3 separate regions of the Homo sapiens genome follow, and all the other regions are linked to region 2. Evidence: fine-mapped expression QTL. A gene starts in region 2. Each other region holds a variant in brackets. All regions are shown on one strand. Distances are between the middles of the regions. Region 1 has its middle 6.9 kb from the start of SLC37A2. Region 2 holds the start of STT3A (STT3 oligosaccharyltransferase complex catalytic subunit A). Region 3 overlaps LOC105369551 (a long non-coding RNA gene).

Region 1 (2,764 bases), 540 kb before region 2:
AAGGTAGAGTGGATCAGCACTCTTTTCCCAGAAATTTCCATCTTGATCTTGATTCCTGACTCTTGTAGCCTGTTCTTCGTATATTTTACAATAAGGAATGCCAACAGTGTACTAGGAGCCAGGGCTCTCAGGCTAGTGTTACAGAGTTGTAGGGAAATTCTAGGATGAAGTTTTTGCTGGGACAAAGCAGATGAAAGAGTTGAGTTTTTCCAGATCTGGAGCTTACCTGTTGGGGATGCTGTAGACATCTAGAGGCAGCAGGGATATCTTCAGTCTTTATTGTGTAGTGCTGGTTTGTTTATTCAGACCTTCTTTAATCTTACTAATAAAACTCTTCACTTGAAGACCTTTCAGTCCTTGCCTGTGAAAGGCATGATTGTTCTTCTTGAAGTCACATGCTTTTGATTTCTAAACCCATTTCCATTTTCATTTGTTCAACCTGTTCTCCCTGTTTCATTCCTCTTGCTTCACGATGTTACAATAAGAATGCATTCCTAGTTGTAGACCTAAGGAGCAGTGTAAGGCAGGGAGGCATTCCCACAACTTCCTTGAGCCTATCTTAGGCTTAATTAAGCCTATCATAGGCTTAATTGGTCACAGGGACAGAGGTTAGTCCCAAATGATAAGAAGGAATCTGTTTCTACAAATGGAGTGGCCCTTGGGGAGAGCTTCTGTCTCATCTTTCCACCAGCATCACTGTGTGAACCAGGCATGTCTGTTCTCTGCAAGTTAAATTTGTTTGTCTGAGTAGTAGGGAGGAGTATTATCTCCTAGCCGTCTAGAGGTGCCGATGAAGCTGTTCGATAAAAGCAGAGTTACACGTTTAAAAAAATAGCTCAACATCGCTGATCACTAAAAAAATGCAAATCAAAACCACAATGAGATACCATCTCATGCCAGTCAGAATGGCTATTATTAAAATGTCAAAAAACAACAGATGCTGGCAAGATTGCAGAGAAAAAAAGAACGCTTTTGCACTGCTGATGGGAGTATAAATTAGTTCAACCATTGTGGAAGACAGTATGGCAATTCCTCAAAGACCTACAGACAGAAATACCATTTGACCCAGCAATCCCATTACTAGGTATATACCCAAAGGAATATAAATCATTCTATTATAAAGATACATGCACAGGTATGTTCATTGTAGCACTATTCACAATAGCAAAGGCATGAAATCAACCCAAATGCCCATCAATGATAGACTGGATAAAGAAAATTTGGTACATACGCACTATGGAATA[C/A]TATGCAGCCATAAAAAGGAACAAGATCATGTCCTTTGCAGGAACATGGATGGAGCTGGAGGCCATTATCCTCAGCAAACTAATGCAGGAACAGAAACCCAAACACTGCATGTTCTCACTTACAAGTGGGAGCTGAATGATGAGAACACAGGGACACATGGCAAGAACAACACACACTGGGGCCTGTCAGAGGCGGGGTGGGGGCTGGGGGTGGCACTGGCTGGGTGTGGAGGGAGAACACCAGGGGGAATAGCTGGGCTTAATCCTTAGGTGAGGGGATGATCTGTACAGCAAACCACCATGGCACACATTTACCTATGTAACAACCTTGCACATCCTTCACATGTACCCCTGAGCTTAAAAGTTGAAGAAAAAAAACGAGTATCGTAACTTGGAATCCAAGGCACAGTACTGAAATCTGTATTGCTAGTGAGGTACTTGAGTTAATATGGGCAGCTGACCATGCTGCTCCATAGCATATTCTCCAAAGGAAAGATTTCTACTTAAAAAGTAAATTTCTCCCATCCTGTTTCTGGAATTAGAAAACTGAGAACTACTAAAAGGAAATTAAAGTTGACAGAGCTTTTATATATATAAGACTTTTATAAACTAAGGATAGATTCACGGGGAGTTACAAAAACAGTTCAGAGGCGTCCTGGTACCTCTTACCTAGTTTTCCCCAGTGATTACATTTGACATAACCGTAGTACAGTATGTGTGTGTCTGCTATTTTATCACATGCATTGATTTGCGTAAACACCAATGCAAACAAAATACAGAACTATTCTGTCACCACAAAGACCTCCCTTGTGTTACCCCTATAAAGTTACACCCCTCTCAACCACCACCTTCCTTAACTCCAGTCCATCTCTAATCCCTTTTCCATTTTTATGATTTTGTCATGTTGAGATTGTTATATAAATGAAATCATACAGTATGTGACCTTTTGAGATTGATTTTTTTTCACTTGGCATAATGCCATTATGTCAATAGTTCATTTCTTTTTATTGTTGAGTAGTATTTCATGGTATGAATGTACCACAATTTGTTTAACTTTATTGAGGGGCATATTGGTTGTTTCCAGTTTTTTGTTATTATAGATAAAGCTGCTATGGACAATTCATGTACAGGTTTTTGTATGGATGGAAATTTTCAGTTATCTGGGATAAAAGCCCAGGAGCACAATAAGTGTATGGTAAGTGTATTTTAGTTTCTTAGGAAAGTGACAGCATGTATTTGGGTAATGTTTTTTATCTACTCTGCCAGGGGTGGCGGGGGGTGAAAGTCCAGGTTTCCTATTTGACCTCTGTTAACATCCCTGGTTCGGGGAGGCAGGGCAGGGCACCTCATTACTGCTTGAAAGGGTGGGAGTTCTGGCTCTCCACTAGGCCTCCATTGATATCGCCCTGTATGGGCTCCTTACTGCTCCCCATGTGACCTCCATGACACCTTGGTGGTTGGGGTGGGGCGCTCTTTACCATTGGAAGGTGGTGAAAGTCCTGCTTTCCCACTTGGAGTTC
Region 2 (2,764 bases):
CCCGCCTTGGCCTCCCAAAGTGCTGGGATTACAGGGGTGAGCCACCGCGCCCGACCAAAACTCGTATTTTGAAGAAGCATTTACTCCAAGTTCTGTAATTCCTTCAGGCTCAGCTTCAGTTTCCTTTTGTTAAAGTAAAATTACATCGAACACTTACTACTAAAAACAAAACCAAAAAAAAGCAGATCTATTGAATCATAACGTCCTGGGGCGAGCCTGGTCATGTGGATTTTGAAAAAAATGCATGTGATTCTGAAGCAGTGATTTAAATAATGACCTTTCAATAAGTGGTGGGTTCCGTTCATGGGAGAATAGGAAACTGCGTGAGTGGTAGAGGCAACAAGTTCGAAGAGCTGCGAGACGTTCCCACTCTCTCTGGTGTAGCCTTGGCTCACCGAGGCGCGCAGGGAGTGGAAGTGCCTGAGGATAAAGGTGTACACGTGCGAGTCTGAGATGATGGAATTGCTGCTCAAACTTCGTCCCCTTCTCTGCCCTCAGCAAACTTATTGGGGGTCGGGGAGCGCGTGGGGTGCGAGAGAAGAGAGGCAAGTTAGGATAGGGAGAGCGGCTCTCTGGCCGGTATTTTAACAAAGGGCTGAACTGACTAAGCATGGCCGGGCTGCCTCCCGGTCTCCCGAGGAAGCCCGCTTGCTGCTGGGGAGGGCTGTGCCTCCGCGGCGGTGGCTGTCTCAGCTGGCAGTAGAAATGCTTCCAGCTTAGCCCCGACAACCCCTTTAGGCCTAGGCACGCTCTTTCACAAAACCAGGGGCTGTGAACTCTGTCAAGGTTCCCAGGTCCATCGCAGTTACCAAGGCACAGTAAAAGCTCGAGTCAACTATCAGGCACATCCTGCAAAAGACGAACTGTCTGGACCAGTCCGCGTTTGAGTTTTAATTGAGAATAAATAGGTAGAAAATGCTTCCCTCCTCTCCTTTCACCTTGTATTAGGTAACAATTTCTACCTTAAAAAAGACGGGAGACGAGCGGCTCCGCATTCCGAGTTACTGGGACTTGGAGCAAGGGCCTATTTCAGCGTAGTTTCCGCTTCTTGTCACATGACGGGAGTCAGTGGGCCGCGCCTTCCCACTGCGACTCCCCGTGGGTCCGCAAACCGACACGTCACTCCTCGGCCCTCAACCAAACTGCTTGGGGCACGTTCTTTCCGCGCTCTTGACTCCTACGCGCCGGCCTATGACAGCTCGGCGGGAGCATACAGACCTGCCTCTAGACTGCTAAGTGATAGCTGTAATGACCAATTAAAAACTTGAATCGCGGCCCGGTTTACGCCTCCGGATTTGACAGACAGTTCCGAGACCCTATCGCTCTCCAGAAGCGTCCTATTGGCCTGGAGCCAGCCAACGGGGGAGCGGTCCGGGAGGCGGACCCGGCTCCTGCCAGGGTTGGGTGCGCCGCTGAACGGATGGCTGAGGGAGCCCCGCGGATCGTTTAGGAAAGCCGGCCAGGTGAGAAGGCCGTAGAACGTAACTTGAAAATCAGCGGCAGGTGCAGTCCATGGCGTTGATGGGGCTGAACGAAGTGCAGGAGGCAAAACTCTAAATGGGGGTGGAGAGCAGAGCTTAGGGCCTTGCAGAGGAGGGGGCGTGGGGCGTGGTGTGGGGGCTTCCTGGATGGAAGGATGCGAAGGTCTAGGGAGGGAGGGTAAGGTGGGTCTTGAGAACAGAGCGTGGGAAAGACTGGGTCCTGGGACTAGTTATGGAGGGGAAGGCGCGTAGGATGCTGGGGTGATGAGTGTCCCGCGCTGAGGGGTATCAGAGGTGGTCAGTTCTTTGAGGGTGGGAAGAAGAGGGAGGTGGGACCCGCTGGAACGACCGGAAGGGAGAAGAGAGTAAAAGATCGTGAGAGGGTGTGGAAACGTGTGTAGGAAAACGGGGCTGGGGAAATTGCAGTCTGGGAAACTAGAGGCAGGGTGGCAGGAGATGCCACAGCTTGCAGGGCACAGTTGAGGAGAGCAGGTTGGTAAGTGTTTTAAGAAAGGTGTCTTTGCTCTTATTTGCTTGGCGGTGTGCGAAAGTGACCAAAGAGCACGAGATGAAATCTCCCTTACGGCCCTGCCCTCAATGACTAGCTCGTTTACTCAAGTTTTCAAGTAGAGATCCTAGCAGTCTCATTTTGGTGTGTGGCTCGTATCAACGCAGTGGTGTTAAGTTTGTTCCTATTTCAGGCATTCCAGAAAACAGCTGCAAACCCTGAGAGATATGGCTGGATTGTTGACCTCCTGGAGTAGTTAGGCCTTTATTTTTAGTTGCAAAGTAAGCTTTCCCTTTGGGACTATACTTAAACACATTTCTAAACTGCTCTTCTGGGACAGTTAATTATGGAGAACATGCTTGACTTCTCAGTGTTGGGGCTAGCATTCTATATGCCTTCCACCTAGTCCAGTGTTGTTGTTGTTTTGTTTTTCTCCTTTATTCCAATAATAGTGGGAAAAAAGATTCATGGAGGAGGATAGACAAACGTTTGTTAAGGGATACACAAGTACAACTAGATAGGAATAAATTCTAGTGTTCTATAGGATAACTATTATTAGGAGTATAATTAACAACAAAAATACACAATTTGTTGTATATTTTCAGATAGCTAGAAGAGTGGATTTTGAATATTCCTAAGACAAAAAAAATAAGGTGATGAATCTACTAATTATTTCCCGACTTGATCATTACACATTATATACATGTACCAAAATGTCACACTGTACTCCATAAATATGTACAATTATGTGTCAGTCAAAAAGAATAAAAGCAAA
Region 3 (2,764 bases), 110 kb after region 2:
CTCAAACACAGAGAGGGTCGAAAGAAGAGTGAAAGGCCTGGACTTCACCTATGAGGAACAGGACGGGGCTTCAGGGATGTCCTTTATTCTTGGCAGCTCCAAAGGGGCTGGCTCTGTGGAAATCTTTCCTGAGCCTGGACAGTGGTGAAACACCCACTGGCGAGTGTGTAAAAGGAAGCTTCTGCCCACAGCCTGGGAGCAGCTCAGTCCAGACTCTCCAGCCTGCTCTCATCTGCACACTGAAGCAGCCTGTCTTAGCCTTTCCGGAGCACTTAGCTGCCTGGTTCCAGCCACCCTGCTGTGTCTTTCTTACCTCCCAGACTGAGATGGACAAGTTCCCGCTCATGCTCCTGCTGCTGGGGGTTTTTCCTCTTGTGTTCTTCCAAGGTGTGAGTGAGGGTTTGGGCTGGCTGGGGCAGGAGGTGAGAACAGGGGCGAAGATAGCTGGCGAGCAGGCTGAAGATGATCTGGCCAGCACGGGAGGAGGTCAACACCAAGATTCTGGGATGATCTGACCAACAAGAATTGGAGGTGTCTCTCTGCTGTCCCCACCTCAACTCCTACCAGGGCAAGAGGTCAGGCCTCTTCCCGAGGTTTCACTCACTTGGGAAAATCAAGGCTGGTGTGTGTTTCTCAACATGGGGCGTTGAGGCTGTCTGGCTGGGATTATGTGGCAGAGCCAATGATTGCTCAAGGCTTTCTATATAGAAGCAACCTAGGGACAGTGGTCTAGTAGGTAGAAGTCACTGAAGGGCTTATCCTAAACCAGTGTTTCCATAGCAAACATCCTGTACAATCTTTCCATGGCAAGTTTCACTTAGATATGTTTGGATATCAGATACCTCTTTAGCAGGGTGTGGTGGGAAACTTTGTGAGAATGCCTCTCTTCCTTGAAGCCAGCACAGTCTTTATGCCTCTTTCATTTCCCAAGAGATCATCAACCTCAGAGAAGTTGTATGTAGATGCTCTGACTGTGCTCTGCACAAAGGCACCACTGTCAAAGGGATACCTTTTCTTTTATTTTCAATAAAATTAAATCACTTTACCAAATCTCCAGCTCCTTAAGGAACTAATGGACAAAATCTGATGGGAACATTTCCACCTTCTAAGA[T/C]TATGCTGGGAGATGTTCTTAGGGTTATTCTTTGCCCTTGAACTCCTGGGCCCTAATAGTGGCCTAGCCCACCTTGGTCTCAGCCCATTCAGCCCTGGGCACAGCCTTCACGTTTATTTTCTACAGGTGATGCCACAATGTGCATGGTGTGCAAGCTTTTTAAGAGAGGCCAGTTTAATAGGCAAGGGCAACTGCACTGTGAACCATGGCTCTGGATGCAGAACCAGGGATTTCTTCATTTTTGCTGAGACAGGTAATGCTGTGAGCCAGTCTGAGAGAGCCTTGCTGGGTGGTGAATGCATTCGGGGACCAGACGTGGCATGGATGGGGAAGGTCTCCCCACTTTGAGGTAAAGTATTGTTTCTGGCACTAAATGTGAATGCCTGTCTTCCAGGTGGGTGGTTCTATAATCACACGGAATTGAACTGCTTAAATACATGTGCGCCTTCACATATGTATCTTATGACCTGAAGGTTTCAACCTTTTGCTGTAAAGATCAAGACTTCTGTAATAGAAATAAAGGACAATTAATGACCACGAAGACTGACTGACCATCACTTCCTTGGCAGTGGTGGTTTGCCCTTCACCTCTTTCTGTGCCAGTATCTCTGGTGTGCTCCCCCTCCCCACGTGCTCCTGCTGAGCCTGCAGGATCCTGGAGTGCCCTCCAAGTATCCCTCCTCACTTCTCTCCAGGCTACTGGCTCCATCCTTCTGACGCCAAATACTCTCAGTTCACCCTGTGATATTGTTGCGATGTTTGTCCCCTCTAAATCTCATGTTGAAATGTGATCCCCAATATTGGAGGTGAGGTCTGATGAAAGGTGTTTTGGTCATGGGAGCAGATTTCTCATGAATGGCTTGATGCCCTCCTCATGGGAATGAGTGAGTTCTCACTGTATTAGTTGACATGAGAGCTGTGGTTTAAAAGAGCCTGGCACCTCCTCTCCTCTCTCTTGCTTTGTTTCTTACCATGTGGCACCCCTGCTCCCCCTTTGCCTTCTGCCATGAATAAAAGCTTTCTGAGGCCTCACCAGAAGCCAAGCAGATGCTGCTTCCATGTTTGTGCAGCCAGTATAGCCATGAGCCAAAATAAACCTTTTTTCCTTATAAATTACCCCGTCTCAGGTATTCCTTTATAACAATGCCAAATGGATTAACCCTCGCTTCATTCTCGTCTTCATTCACATCTGCTCATCCCCAGCAGCCCTGTGTCGCTTGCATCTTCTCAGCCCTCACCATTCCTGCATTAATTTGACTGACTAACTGCCCAGTTTCCAGTACCAACAACTTAGCAGTGACTGTAGAGAGCACAGAAAGGTAATGGGCTCCATTTCATACACCAGGAGGCAGAGGGGTCAGGGGAAAACTCAGGAAAACATGTCCACTTGGCAGAGGGACAGAGAGGGCTTAACGTCCAGGAAGGTATCAAGGCCTGGGGCAGACCAGTGGGGTCATCAGCTTTAGATGCCACCTACACACCCAGAACCTACTGATAGCCTAAGTTATGAGATGGAAAGAAGTAACCAGTGAGTTGAGTGAGAACAGGGGTGGATGAATCATAGACACTAGCGACCACCCAAATACAAAGGCAGTGAAGGTCTCTCTCCAAAAGATTGTTGAGTGGTGGTCAGAGAAGTAGCAGGGGAGCCAGC

The links. PIP is the estimated chance that this variant, and not a neighbour inherited with it, causes the effect.
Region 1: its variant is fine-mapped to the expression of STT3A in T cells (TOPMed, PIP 0.98).
Region 3: its variant is fine-mapped to the expression of STT3A in whole blood (INTERVAL, PIP 0.94).

The regions. Positions count from the first base shown.
Region 1 is chr11:125,055,052-125,057,815 of GRCh38, forward strand. No RefSeq gene overlaps it. Among named protein-coding and RNA genes, the nearest start is that of SLC37A2, 6.9 kb to the right of the region's middle. The variant C/A (reference allele first, on the strand shown) is at 1,245.
Region 2 is chr11:125,591,456-125,594,219 of GRCh38, forward strand. It overlaps STT3A (STT3 oligosaccharyltransferase complex catalytic subunit A), which reads left to right and starts at 1,397. Exons shown (of 18, transcript NM_152713.5): 1 at 1,397-1,463. It overlaps STT3A-AS1 (STT3A antisense RNA 1), which reads right to left and starts at 1,113. Exons shown (of 4, transcript NR_132372.1): 1 at 963-1,113. RefSeq lists enhancers at 382-551, 669-1,263.
Region 3 is chr11:125,697,396-125,700,159 of GRCh38, forward strand. It overlaps LOC105369551 (a long non-coding RNA gene), which reads left to right. Exons shown (of 2, transcript XR_007062934.1): 2 at 1-2,223. Among named protein-coding and RNA genes, the nearest start is that of ACRV1, 18 kb to the left of the region's middle. The variant T/C (reference allele first, on the strand shown) is at 1,112.